Homo sapiens: one gene and its partner. The protein of the gene in region 1 purifies or fractionates together with the protein of each later gene. This does not show direct contact. Each region holds a gene or a part of one and is shown on either strand. Other genes may lie near its edges.

The links.
Region 2: the proteins of VRK2 (region 1) and MAP2K1 purify together in Homo sapiens (pull-down; 2 studies listed by IntAct, with this or other methods). This does not show direct contact.

The regions. Positions count from the first base shown.
Region 1 is NC_000002.12:58,049,185-58,057,482, forward strand, and holds part of VRK2 (serine/threonine-protein kinase VRK2), read left to right. Parts: intron 1-8,298. UniProt on the Homo sapiens protein: Serine/threonine kinase that regulates several signal transduction pathways.
Region 2 is NC_000015.10:66,389,912-66,396,911, reverse strand, and holds part of MAP2K1 (dual specificity mitogen-activated protein kinase kinase 1), read right to left. Parts: intron 1-7,000. UniProt on the Homo sapiens protein: Dual specificity protein kinase which acts as an essential component of the MAP kinase signal transduction pathway.

The DNA of each region.
Region 1 (8,298 bases):
GTCTTTTTAGAGCATAATTATACAATCTGCCAGACAAAATGCTAACTTTCTTTTTTTTTGAGAGCTTGTTTTCTTAGAAACATGCTTTTTTCAGATGAGAAACCACAACTGTATAGATAAAAACACTTTCTGTTTGTGAATCTTAATCAATATTTAGGCAATACAAGAGTCTAGTCATTTCTTAATTGGGCTCTACTGGAGAATTCATAGATAAAACTTAAGGCATCTATTCTGTGAAATGAATTAACTTCTCTCTCGTGCATCTAGAGTGGTCCCTAGGGATGTGCCATTCTTGGGATAATTGAAAAAATAAACACTCAAAATTATTTTCTGTGATCTGTGGTACAGGTAAGGAACCATGGGCTGGATAGGCCTTTACATTGCATTTAAGCATTTAAAAATTACACTGAACTTTAATGGATCATTGAGTTGGAATGAGGAGGGGATATCCATTAAAAGATTGATTAATAAAATAAGGAAAATAGTAGTGATTTTTAAAAATATACCCTCAAGGATAAATTCTCCTAAATGTACTCACTTGAGACTTGAGATCACATCTATTTCTATAGGAGATTAAGGAGTTGATAAAATACCTCCGTTGAGGGAATCTTGGGTTCTCATCACATATTTCCAGAAAAACATGCTTCATGGATCCTGAAATATAAAAGATCCTCTTCTGATAAAATTAAGATTGTAGTTTTGAATGAATGAATGAATGAAGTTTGGTCAATAAATATCTGCTTATTAAATACTTAAGTGTCTATTCTAGTTGGAAAGACAAGATCAGCACAAAAAATTGTATGAGTCAAGTAAAGGACCCATTTAAAGGGTTTGAACTTGCTTGAAATTGCTTGAAAAAATACTATGGTTATTAAGTGCTAGATTGAATGACATAGTCAACACTGTTCAATAGAAATGTAATACAAGTTACATATGTAGTTTAAAATTTTCTAGGAGCCACATTAAAATACGTTAAAAGAAACAGGTGAAATTATTTTAATAATATTTAATCTAGTATATCAAAAATATTATTTCAATATGCTCTCAACATAAACAAATGAAATATTTTACTTTTTTAAATGAAAGTCTTCAAAATCCAAGGTGTATCTAGTCTCAAGAGCCCAGTTAGCCCATGTGGCTCATATGCTCAGTAACTACATGTGGCTGCTGTATAGAATAGTGCAAATAAAGACTATGTGAGGATAAGTATTGTTTGAAACTTGAACTTAGTGAATTCTCTTTTACAGCAAAGAGTTAAGATCTCTAGTATACTGTCTTGACTCAAGGTTGAGATATAGTGTTGAATAAATTATTTCTGATGTGGCTGAGCTATAGCCTTGAATTCCATAGCTTATCACTTTTGGTTTTCTAATATTTGTATTATTTGAGTAATTTCAAAGAACTAGAGAAAAGTATTGATGTGTTGATTTTATCTCTTTGATTTTCTTGAAATGTAAATATTATATGTATTTAAATTCAAGTGAATGTTTAAGATTAAATAGTGTATGTCTGTATACCTGTATGTATCTATGTGTACACATAGTCACTATTGTTACTGTTATGATAAAGGAATATACTTGCATAGGCATGTGACTTACTTGTCCCTATTCAAATGCAGAAAAATATTTGCTTCTTTCAGTCTAGTACAGTGTCACATATTTTTACTTTTTTTTTTTTTGAGACAGAGTCTCGCTCTGTCACCCAGGCTGGAGTGCAGTGGCTCAATCTCGGCCCACTGCAACCTCCACCTCCTAGGTTCAAGCAATTCTCATGCCTCAACCTCCCAAGCATCTGGGACTACAGGCACCTGCCACCCTGCCTGGCTAATTTTTGTATTTTTAGTAGAAACGGGGTTTTGCCATATTGGCCAGGATGGTCTCGAACTCCTGACCTCAGGTGATCTGCCCACCTCGGCCTCCCGAAGTGTTGGGATTACAGACGTGAGCCACTGTGCCCAGCCTACTTATTTTTTTTTATTACCAAAATAATACTGTTTGTTTTACAATATATTTTCAGGGTTCAATATGTAAGGGAACATTCTCTAGTATCTGAACTTTAGAACCTGGACCCTACCTAGGAAGATTAGCAAGTACACACCACTGAGGAAGGACTTTAAAGAAATATTTAGCTATTTTCAGAAAAAAGGCTCCAGTACTTCAGAATTTATAATAAAGATGTGTGTTCCAAATGTTGTAACTGTTCCATTAAAAGTGATGCTAATGAATCATAGAATCAGTTTAATTTCACTAAACTTAGTTTTTACTATTTTCAAAGCTATACAAACAAATCAATATGAAATTACATCATGTTTTTGCATTTTATCATGGTTCTCATCACTTCCTCTATATAAATGAAGAGAAGAAGCAGTAAAATTCAAATTTTCCTGAATACTTTTGTGTCCAGTGACATTCATTTCGATTCTTTCCAGATACCCTCTTTCAGCAGACACTTGATCAGCGTTTACTGCCTAAGGCTGAGAAGAAACTAGCTGCTCTGTCTAGCTCATTGTACATGTACAACTGTCCTCTAGCTTTGAGATCAGTAGCCAGGGCCTTTCGGTAATCAGCAGCTTACAGTTAAGGGGAAGGGGCAGAGAAGTTTGGTATTTACTCTTGACTTGGAGAAATAATGTGCCTCTAGCATTAATAAGAAATAGCTAAAAGAGTGAAAAGAAAAGTCTGAATACAAGAACAAAGTCAAAGTTCTTTCTTTGAATATGAAAAGAGAAGGGGAGGAAAAAGGAAGAAAGGAAACTGGTTTAGGGGATGGGAAAAATTGCTGTCATTTTAGTATCAAATGAATGAAAAAGTTTTTTAAATATCAGGAAGGAGAGAAAACTGAGGGTTAGAATTTTACTATAATGCTGGGTATAACACAGAACCAAGTAAATTACGGGAGAATTGCATAAATAATAGCAGAGGTTTTGGCATTAGGCATATCTGACCTGAATCCTGACCTGATGAAGCCACTTATTCATCTAGTTACTTAATCCTTTGGGTTGTTTCTATTCTGCATAATTGTGATAATAATAATTGTGAGGAGAATTAAATGAGATTTTTTTAAGGAACTTGGTAAGCATTTAATAAATGTAATTTAGTTATTTATTTCCATAGACTTTCCCATTCTTAATACTGGTGCCATAGTGGGGCCAGGCACAGTGGCTCATGCCAGTAATCCTAGCACTTTGGAAGGCCCAGGCGGGTGGATTGCCTGAGCTCCATCCAGCCTGGGCAACTTGGTGAAACCCCATCTCTACTAAAACACAAAAAATTAGCTGGTTGTGGTAATGTGTGTGTGTAGTCCCAGTACTCAGGAGGCTGTGGCATGAGAATTGCTTGAACCTGGGAGGAGGAGGTTGCAGTGAGCCAAGATTGCACCACTGCATTCTAGCTTAGGTGACGGAGTGAGACTGTCTCAAAAAAAAAAAAAAAAAAATGCTGCCATAGTGGATTAAGATGATGACAAAGAACTCCATTGGAAGGGTGGATTTTCTATTTATTCTACTATGAATTTTGGTGGATTTAACTACTAATGTGGTAAAACTGAGAACATAGAGAATGTCAGCATAAGACTTTATGACATTTTACTAACTGATAAAAGCTCCCCCTAAAATTTGCTATAGTAGTGAAAAGTTCTCATATAAGCTGTATTTAATCTGCCTCAGATATTAAAGCTATTGGTTTCAGAAATTATTCAAAATTGAGAATAACAGAATTACAGGATAAACTTTAGCCACATTCTTTTGAAGGCTGATTATGTAAGTAAAAGATATGATTTATCTGTAGCAGTTTTAGTTTTTTGAAGGTGGCATAGTGATGACCATTTAGCATCTTTGGAGTGTCAAGCACAGAATAGATGTTCAACAGTTATTTGCCTGAGAAATTGAGACTGAGATTGGAGTACTTAACCCACACAAGCTAGTTTGCTTTGTTCTCTTCCATAATTATAGATGTCACTCTTCGATCTACTGCAGATTAGTATCCTTAGTCACCAGGAAAGTTGAGACAAGGCACCTATCATGACATCATCTAAAAGAATGTGCATGTGCTTTATTGACAGGACATCAGTAGCAATATCTTTTATAAAGATACTATCTCAAAGCTTTTATAAAGAATAACACATTATTATAACTAAAGTTAACTGTGGTGAAGCCTGAAAATCAGATCATTTATCCATGGACAGATGTTTAAATTTCATCAAAGTGACTGCCAGACATTTTTGGATCATGTTGTCGGATTAGCCTAATTTTGTACTTCAGAAACATAGAAGGAATCTTTTGTTGGCGGATAGGTTTTTAGAAATTACCAAAGTTTAAATCATTTATTTTACTGATAAGGAAACATTTATATTTAAAACAAGTAAATATAAACCACATACATAGAATGTTTTTACTTCTTCATAAAATAATTTTTTATTTTCTTTATAAATAGTGAGCTATAATAGATTGATTTTAAGGTATGCAGAATAAAGTTTAGAAGAGCCCAGTGATAATACTAGCAACAAAGTAGTGTGTTGGAATACATATTGCTTCATTACATATTACATTATTAAGTGTTATTTTGGTAGTGTTTATAGAGAGCTTTGAGATAAATAGCCTTATCTGACACAATGCAACGTTGTGGTGCCACTGCAATTGTTATTAGGCAATTTTGCAAATGATACTGTGGGAGTGAAGAGAAGAATTGAATAAATGTGAAAATGAGAATAATTTGGACTAGAAACTATAGTGTTTATGATAAATTAGTCTCCAGAAGGTATAAATAATAGGTAATATAAACTCAAAACAGGGAAGGAATCACTTGGAGTTTTGTAAATTTAATACGTTTGTTGGACTTACAGACAAGAAATAAAAGTCTCTATAAGATGTATTTTAATTTTGTTTATATTTAAATTTTGAGTTTTTAAAGAGATAGCAGTACCCAGTTATCTATCAGTTAAGAAATCTGGGTGTTTAAGAAAGTTTGGGTTCCTTCCATTAAAAGGGAGATTTATAAGACTTGGCTTTTGCTTGGCTTTTTCATTTTTTTAAATATCCATTTTTAAGCATATTTTATATTATGGTTCTTCTTTATTTTCAACATTTTACTGTCAAATTCTTTTGCCTTAAGGGAAGATTTATAAAATACTCTATTCTTCAGTGCATTTATATATTATGTCTCTTCCACTGGACCTGTTACTATCTTGTAACTGTTTACAGTGGTCAAGGTTTTTTTTTTTTAATTTGAAACATATTGCTGTGGGGAAATTTCTTCTTCCTGAAATGAGCTCACCTCTATTGCCACACAATAAAAGAATTCTCAGCTTTTGAGAGCTCTGGCTTCCTTATGAAATATGGATAGACTTCTGCTTCTGAAGTGTTTTAGGTTTTTTTCTTTAGATAAGGAAGAAGAGGAATAAATAGTATGAGGTGTGTTTCTTCTTTTAAGACACAGGAATATCTATATCAGATAAATGAGAAGAAAATTAAGAAACTTTAAAGCTCTAAATGAGAGAGCTCATTAGAAATTAGCTACTTGGATGATGAAAATTTCTTCATCATCTACACTTAAAGGCATTTATGGTTTTTATACTACTTAGATACTTGATTTTGCAATTAGTATTTCTTTAGAATGTTTGTCCCTGATAGCTCCATCACATGGACTGTTATTCCTGAACACTCTGTTGTATTCTCCATGAAAAAATATTTTAGGAGAAAAGATAGAAAACTCAGCAATTATTTCAAGATAATTGTTGAGGACTTCCCTTGTTTCTTTTAAAAGCATAGCCTTTTGTTAGCCAGGTAGATTTATCTTTTCTTTAACATCTTCGATCAAGTAATACTTGAGGGAAATATTCTGTAGAAAGACATCCATTGAAGGCCAGAAACATCTACAGATGCAATGTGATCCCAAGCAATGAAGCATGTGGCCCTTCATTGGCATTATATGATAACAGGAGGATCTTCTGGCAGAAGAAGTGACTTTTGCTGCGTTCTGCATGCTGCCCCTCCAAACCCATCTTTGATTGGCACCTATGCCCTATTGAAACTGGCATCACACCTTCTGAATGGGCACAGTGCCAGGCTAGCAGATGGGTATGGGCAAAAGCATGCCAGAAACCCAGTATGTGAATCAAGTTTAAGTATCAGGGGCCCAAATTCCCATCCAGGGATATAAAAACTACAGTCTGTTGAGAGCTTTTTGTGCTTAAGGTTAAAGGACATGCCATTTCTACTCCAACTTAGAAGTTGATTAATTTTGAAAGTCAAACAGCAGCTCCTGTGGCTGTGTCAGGCAAAATCCTGTCTTTGGTGAATGAGAATTACTACTTCGTGTAGGGAAGAGAAAGTATTGTAATGAAGTTTCCAATGAGAGTTACTCTCCTGCAAGTGCCTCCAGCACTTAAGCAGCATGCATTCAGTGGAGATGAATATTTCTGTTCTCCAGCAGAGCCAGGTGCAATCAAAGCCAGATCTTCAACCTGCTGCAGTAAAGAACCCTAAATTTAGAAAGGGCAGGCAAAGTTTAGAAGAACTCCTTGGTGGCAGGCAGCTCTTTTCACTATGAGCTGATGAAGCTTCACAAAATTGTATAAAGGAGATGAAGGGAAAACTCCAAATAAAAGACCTTCAGAAAATTTCATCCAGAAACAGAAAGATTTTTAACAAACCAAAGGAAAAAGTTTAGTCCTTTCTCCTCAATGCAGAAAATCTTCTGAGTTTTCTATCAATAAAAACTTAGTTAACCAAAATGTTAGAACCAACTTAATGCATAAGTGACAAAACTTTCTATTTTTACATTTATTTCATTGCATGTCTATCATGTATATAAACTTTGCTTCTTGAATAATGGATTTTGCATAAAATTGAGAACTCTAAACATCATATTTCCTTCTGATTGTCTCACACCCACTACAGAACTCCCCTCCCCCACCCCCTAAAAGAGGGCACGCTTCCTTCTGATCACTTTAATCATATCTTCTAAATGCTCTAAAATTTACAGGAATGCCTGTAAGACCAGCTGTGGCCAAGAGAAGCTTTTCCTAATCGCCTTATAGCCGTTGCTTTTGCTTTTTCACTGTGTAAACTTTATCTATGGAACAGATTCCATGAGACCGTTGTGAATACTTCAACGTATTCAAAACATATAACTGCCACAAATTAAACTACTAAAACTAAAGCTGGTGCATTGTAACTGCCAAGTAAAACTGGCACGTCCCTCTGTCAGACTGCAGGAGAGTGTGCCATACAGTCCTCGGAAAACACAATTCATCCAGAAGCACTCTTGTCACTTGCTCTGATATTAAACCAGAGAAAGTGACATTAATTAAAGAAGTGACATGAGCCAACAAAGGCAATGAATTCTCAGCTTTGGCTCATGTGCAGACCTTAATCCAACCTGTTCTGCTTAGGTAGTGTGGCTATTTCTGAAGAGTAACTAGTGTGGCTACTCACCCCACTTCCTCTCATCTTCCCATTCTGCATCACGTGTTTGAGGAACTAACATTTTATATCCAGGGTTGGACTGGTTAATTGGTACACTGGTAGTCATTGCAGGGCTTCCCAAAATAGTAGTGTGGTGGCATGTGATGCTTTTATTGTACTTGGTAATAGTGTGAGATGTACAACTAGAGGTAGAGGAGAGTTGGTCTAACGAAAAGGCAAGCAACAGCCAAACAGCAGAATACCTAGACTTGGTAGACTGGAAGCGAGGAGGGTCTGCTGCTAGGACTGGTTGTGGAAACAAATGGTGGCTTGGTAGGCTTTATGAAAATTCTGAAATGCTAAAGAGGCATGCTGGGGAGTGTTCATAACTTCTCTCTTTCTTTGTTCCGATGGTGTGCTTTCACACAATGCTCACCTCATTATTTCAGACGGTCACTATTTTGTATGCTGTCTTTTTAACCTGTTTCCCCCAACATGTGTGCACACAGACACTACATTATAAACTGCTTTCAGGCAGTCACTCACAGTGCTTAATATGGCCTTGCATGTTATAGTTCTTAAAAAATGATGTGTTAAATTAACTCTAGAACTGTTCTATTATGATTTTCCCAATAAATAGGTTGTATGAGACAAAAAAATTCCATGCTCTATCCTATATGTGACCTGCGTGTAAGGCACTGTACTTTCAGATTTAGATAAATTCTTTTGTATCTTTTGGGGAGTTTGAAGGGATAAAAGTATGTGTTTATTCTCTTTTCAAGTATATTTTTAAAATACAAGAAGCTGTGTACTTAATCCATAGATTGTAGAATTTATTGTGAAGAGTCTACTCTGTTAAAGCATAGTATGGAGAGGGGACTAAAAAATGGACATTG
Region 2 (7,000 bases), on another chromosome or scaffold:
GGAGTTCAAGACCAGCCTGGCCAACATGGTGAAACCCTGCCTCTACTAAAAATACAAAAATTAGCTGGGAGTGGTGGTGTGCGCCTATAATCATAGCTACTTGGGAGGCTGAGGCAGGAGAATCGCTTGAACCCAGGAGGCAGAGGTTGCAGTGAGCCGAGATCACGCCATTGCACTCCAGCTTGGGCAACAAGAGCAAAACTCTGTCTCAAAAAAAGAAAAAAGAACTATTATAACTAAGTAGGGAGTGATGTAACTGAGCATGGCATGGAGTTGCTCAGAAAAGACTACACACATTGGAGATAAGCTTTATGTAAGATCTTGAAAGATCGGTACCATCCGGGGCAGATACGGTGTCTCACGCCTGTAATCCCAGCACCTTGTGGGGCTGAGGCAGGCATATCACCTGAGGTCAGGAGTTCGAGACCAGCCTGACCAACATGGTGAAATCCTGTCTCTACTAAAAATAAAAAAATTAGCCGGCCATGGTGGTGTGTGCCTGTTATCATAGCTACTTGGGAGGCCGAGGCAGGAAAATGTGGGAGGCGGAGGTGGCCGTGAGCCAAGATCATGCCACTGCACTCCAGCCTGGATGAGAAGAGTGAAACTCCATCTCAAAAAAACAAAAGGGCCGGGCACGGTGACTCACACCTGTAATCCCAGCACTTTGGGAGGCCGAGGAGGGCGGATCACGACATCGAGGCCATCATTTTTAAATTTTGTACTAAAAATACAAAAATTAGCCAGATGTGGTGGCGCATACCTGTAGCCCAGCTACTTGGGAGGCTGAGGCAGGAGAATCGCTTGAACCCGGGAGGCATAGGTTGCACTGAGGCGAGATCGCGCCACTGCACTCCAGTCTGGGGACAGAGTGAGACTCATCTCCAAAAACAAAACAAAACAAAAAAGATGGGTACCATTTATTTTATTCTAGGCCCCACAGCAGACGGTGGAGAAATACCAGTACACAAGACAATCACAGTCCCTGTTTTCACAGAAGTTAAAGTGTAGTGGCAAGTATAAAACAAAAATAAAAACATGCAAGAGGGCCAGGCGCCTGTAATCCCAGCAGTTTGGGAGGCTGAGGCAGTGGATCACCTGAGGTCAGGGGTTCGAGACCAGGCTGGGCAACATGGTGAGACGCCGTCTCTACTAAAAATAACAAGAATTAGCCCGGCGTGGTGGTGTGCGCCTGTAATCCCAGCTACTCGGGAGGCTGAGGCACGATACTCACTTGAGCCCAGTGGGCAGAGGTTGCAGTGAGCCAAGATCATGTGACTGCACACTCTAGCCTGGGTGACAGAGTGAGACTCCGTCTCAAAAAAAAAAAAAAAAAAATCATGCAAGAAAGTGGAGGAGGGCATTTCAGACAAAAAAAAAAACCATGTCAGCAAGACCAGACAGATGTAAGAAGGTAAGCAACAGTATGCTGGTGGCACAGTGAGGAGAGTAAAGAAAGTGGTAAGTGGACCACAGCAGGTGAACGGAAAAACAGAGGAAAATTAAGCTAGATAGGCAAGGCAGGGCCAACAGCTACAGGAGTACCCACTTAAATGTAGTTTTGCTTTGACAATTCCAGTTACCCACAGTGAGTACAGTAACCACATTCATGTAACTGTCATTACAATATATTGTTATAATTCTTTTTTATTGGTTATTATTGTTAATCTCTTACTATGCCTAATTTATAAATTAAACTTCATCATAGGCATATACTGCATAGGAAAAAACACAGTATATGCAGGGTTTGGTACTATTGATATCTGTGGTTTCAGGCATCCACTAGGGGTCTTGGAACATATGCCACTCAGATAAGGGAGGACTACTGTACTCTACCACAGTATCTTCTTCCTTTCTTTGAAAGGTGCATAAATAAGTGAAACTGGAATTCTGTGAGTGTTTATATTCAAACAAGAGTCCCATATATTTCCTTGCCATGGGCTAAATCATCTTTAAGACTTTCTTTGCTATTACTGTATCTGCTGTAACAGCGGCAGAGATGTTCTTCCCAAAGACACAGGCTTAAGCAGGCCTTTTTCACATGAAGCTGTTCTGAAAGACAGCACCAGTATTAGTTACTGCATCAACTACCCAAAAGAAGCATCCAAGTTCAAAACTACAAAATCAGTGTGAAACCACTTCAAAAGCTCCTACTTATCAGGCCAGACATGGTGGCTCATGCCTGTAAACCCAGCACTTTTGGGAGGCCAAGGAGGGAGGATTGCATGAGGCAAGGAGTTTGAGCCCAGCCTGGGCAATACAGCAAGACCCTATCTCTAAATTTTAAAATTAGCCAGGCATGGTGGTACATGCCGGTAGTACTAGCTACTTAGGAGGCTGAAGCAGGAGGATTCCCTGAACCCAGGAGTTCAAGGTTATAGTGAGCACCAATGCACTCCAGCCTGAGTGTCTGAGCAAGACCCTGTCTCTCAAAAAAAAAAAAAAAAAAAAAGTTCCTGGTTATCATCATGGTACACATCTCAGAAAGAGCCATAAGAGACAAAAAAAAGCACATCAACCTGTCTCAACCTTTCTTCCTCCAGGGCCTTCACACTCTAACAGATGTGTGTTCCTTACAAACCTGGCAGAACTGCTGATGCTATGAACTACACCCTGAATGCAATAAGTAAGTCTGAGTGTTTCAGGGTTACATAGAAACAATTCAAAATCCAAAATCATGAACGCTACTAAGGCCAAGCAGTGAACCCTCCTAAGGTTATTCGGCACCTTATAGCCTTCAAAGAAATTTTATACATCTTCAAAGGTATTCCTCTGAGGTAGGATCTAGTCAATCATTTAATCAACAGGTATCTACTGAGTATTTTCTATGTGCCAGAATCTGTTCTACACACTGAGCAATGAACAAGGCAAAGCCCCAACCATCATGAAGCTTACACTTGGGGTGGCAGAAGAAGATAAATACTTATACACGATGTAACATCAGTTAGTGATCAGCGCTACAAAGAAAAATAAGGCAAAATCAAAGGGTAGAAAATGACAGGGAGTTCTGTATTACAGTGATCAAAGATGGCCTCTGTGAAGAGACATTTCAACAGAGGGGTGAAGGAAGTGAGGAAGCAAGTCATACGGTATTTGAGAGACAAGCTTTCCAGGCAGCAGGAATGGCAAATGCAAAGATTCTAAGATAAGAATGTGCCCAACCTACAACCCAACAGCACAAAGGACAGTGTGGCTAGAGTGCATGAGTGAAGAGAACACTGGAAGAAAACTAAGGACCTGGTCAGGTAGGGCCTTGTAGGCCACCATGGTAAAGATTTTGTAAACAATTATCACCTCCACTTTACAGATTAAGGAAACCAAGAGTCAGAAAGTAGAAAGGACTTGCCCAAGGTCAAAGAAAAAGTGAGATCTTGAGAGGTACCCTGCCTCACTACTGCAACTGGATTAACGGTATTGTTTTAAAGAAAGAGATTAATAGCCGGTGCGGTGGTTCACACCTGTAATCCCAGCACTTTGGGAGGCCAAGGAGGGCAGATCACAAGGTCAGGACTTGGAGACCAGCCTGAGCAATATAATGAAACCCTGTCTCTACTAAAAATATAAAAATTAGCTGGGCATGGTGTCAGGCACCTGTAATCCCAGCTACTCAGGAGGCTAAGGCAGGAGAATTGCTTGAACCTTGTGGGGAGGGGTTGCAGTGAGCCAGGATTGCAACACTGCACTCCAGCCTGGGCAACAGAGTGAGACTCGGTCTCAAAAAAAAAAAAAGAGAGAGAGAAAGAGATAACATGCCTTATCCTGGAAGGAGAGACAATGTACCCTAAGACCCAGCAATTCCACTTCTGAGTACATTCCACAGGAAACTCTCTCACAACATCCAAAGGAGACAAGGATGTGCAAGGATGGGCATGGTCATGACTGTTTGAGGCAGCAAGGGGTTGGGAAACAACAAAGATGTCTAATTCTAGAGAAATAAATAAGTAAAATGTGGCAGGCAAACATGACTGCTCTACAACCAAGAGAAATAATGAACTAGACACATATTGTATAGCATCATGAATAGAGCTCAAAACAAAATTGGTTAAAAAAAGAAACTAAGGCCAGGCATGGTGGCTCACGCCTGTAAGCCCAACACTTTGGGAGGCTGAGGCAGGCGGATCATCTGAGGTCAGGAGTTCGAGACCAGCCTGACCAACATGGTGAAACCCTGTCTCTACTAAAAATACAAAATTAGCCAGGCACGGTGGCACATGCCTGTAATCCCAGCTACTCAGGAGGCTGAGGCAGGAGAATAGCTTGAACCTGGGGGGCGGAGGTTGCGGTGAGCCGAGATCATGCCATTGCACTCCAGCCTGGGCAACAAGAGCAAAACTCCATCTCAAAAAAAAAAAAAAAAGAAAAGAAAAGAAAACAAAGAAGAAACTGATATAAAATTTAGGGATGGTCATTGCTTCTGTTCAAATACTCCTGGTGCACCAGCACAGTGGCTCATACCTATAATTTCAGCACTTTGGGAAGATGAGGTGGGCAGATCGCTTGAGCCCAAGAGTTCAAGACCAGCCTGAGCAACATGGTGAAACCCCATCTCTACAAAACAATCAAAACTTAGCAGGGCGTGGTGGCACGCACCATTATACTCCAGCCTGGGCAGTGGGAGCGAAACCCTTTCTTAAAAAAAAAAAAAAAAAAAAAAAACCCAAAAAAAACACACAAATATTCGTGGTTCTCCCCCTTCCAAAAAGGTCACTGCCCTCCTTGAAGGTCAACATGGCCACATGATTTGCTCTGGCCAAAGAAATGGCAGCAAAAATGACAAGGCTCACCTCTAGGCAAAACTTTAAGAGCCTGAATGTAGCTCTTCACAAGATTCCCTCCTCATGTAGGTATACTTGAGAGACGATGCCTCGATCAGCCTGGATCCCTAAAGGACTCCAATCTACAGAGCCTCCCACTGACCTGAAAGTGTGTTAAATTACTGAGATTTTGTGGTTGTTACCTCAACATAACCTATTCTATCCTGTCTATGAAATGCAGATTTGTAGCACAATAACATTTTAGAATCCTAAGCAGATACATACAAAACCATCCTTCTACTTCCCAAGGGTATACACATAACCAGACTAACAGGTGGAATTATAAAACCATATAAATATCTTAGAATGGTTGAGTGGGTGACTAAAACAAAAGAAAATGGGGAAAAAAGGAATGAGCATAAAGGGGAAAAGAAAAGGAAAAGACATAAAAAGGTTTATTAAACCCGTTGTGCAAATATTAGAAATTTCATTCACTCACTGACTCAACAAACATCTATGGACCTATTATGTGCCAGAACTATTTTGGGTGTACTTACAGAGTGGTGAGTCAAAAAAAGGCAGTGCAGGCTGGGCACAGTGGCTCACGCCTGTAATCCCAGCACTTTGGGATCACGAGATCAGGAGATCGAGACCATCCTGGCTAACATGGTGAAACCCCATCTCTACTAAAAATACAAAAAATTAGCTGGACGCAGTGGTGGGCGCCTGTAGTCCCAGCTACTTGGGAGGCTGAGGCAGGAGAATGGCATGAACCTGGGAGGCGGAGCTTGCAGTGAGCCGAGGTAGTGCCACTGCATTCCAGCCTGGGCGATAGAGCGAGACTCCGTCTCAAAAAACAAAAAGGCAGTGCTGTGCTTAAAGTTTATAGTGTACAGGAGAGATAAATATTAAGAACACCCCAATGAAAAATTACAATGATTAAGTCTTATTAAAAGCTCAGGTGAGCGCCAGGCACAGTAGTACCCACCTATAGTCCCAGCTACTCAAGAGGCTGAGGTGGTAGAATCACTGGAGTCCAGGAGTTCAAGAACCAGCCTGGGCAACATACCAAGACCCCCATACCAAAAAAAAAAAAAAAAGCAGCAGCTCAGGTGACATGACAAAGAGGGACCACATTCCTCTGAGATGCTTATAAACATCTCAGAGGAAGTGACATTTAGGCAAATAGGTGAAGACTGCTTCCTGCCTACCTAGGGAAGGAGGAGTGATTCATTCCAGGCAAAGGGAACAGCATGTACAGAGGCCTGCAGTGCGTATAGACCATCCCATAGAGGAAGTGAAAGAGGACTAGTGTGGTGGAAGAAAGGAGTGGCAGGAAATGTGGTTAAAGAGATTGGTGGGAGGGGGTGGTGGGGACAACAGGCAGATCACTCAGTCTCATAGTCCAATATAAGGAGTTTGGATTTTGTGTAACTGCAATAGAACCAGAAGAACATTTTAAACAGAGGAACAATATTATCTCATTATCTCATTCTAACACTTAAGACCCTAGTAATATGCTCACATGTTTCTGCAAAATACACAAAAGAAAGCTATTTTTGCATGATTTTTCTTTGAGGACCCCTACAACTTGCATCAACTTCAGGTCCCGTATTACCCAACTCCATCTCTGAACTGGGTAAGGGCTATGTTAGAGGTAAGCACAGGTGCCAAGGGAAAAGCAACCTTGCCAATTTGGTACCAAGAGTTCTTTACTGTCAAAATGGATTTTCTTCCTCTTTAGTTCACATTGTCTGATAACGTTCAAAATTGTGCCCTGGTCTAATCACAGAAATCATGAAAGCAACAGAATTCTTTCTGCTGGTAGCCCAAGATAGGGAACATTTTGCTTGAGGAACACTCTCAGAAGTGAAAGATGAAGATGTGTACAGCTTTCCCTCTCATTAGTGCTATGAAACACAGGGAAACAGTCCCTGTTTGTCTTGGGCAGCCTACACAAAGATGCCTCCTATTGTAACACAGCAATGAGTCATAGAGGTAGATGCAGATGGTACAAAAAACCAAACTAGGGAGAGTTGATTGTCCAGAAGCAAAGGCACCTTAACACATAATCTACCACCATGAATGAAAATCACCTTCCAGTTTCCTTTGGTCCAACACTTAGGCAGTAACAAAGGCACCAGCAGCCAACAGCTTTGGAAGTTTACTATGTACTACCTCATTTAATCTTCACAACTATGCTAAGTAGGTTCTATCATTAGCCCCATTTTTGCAGATGAAAAAAA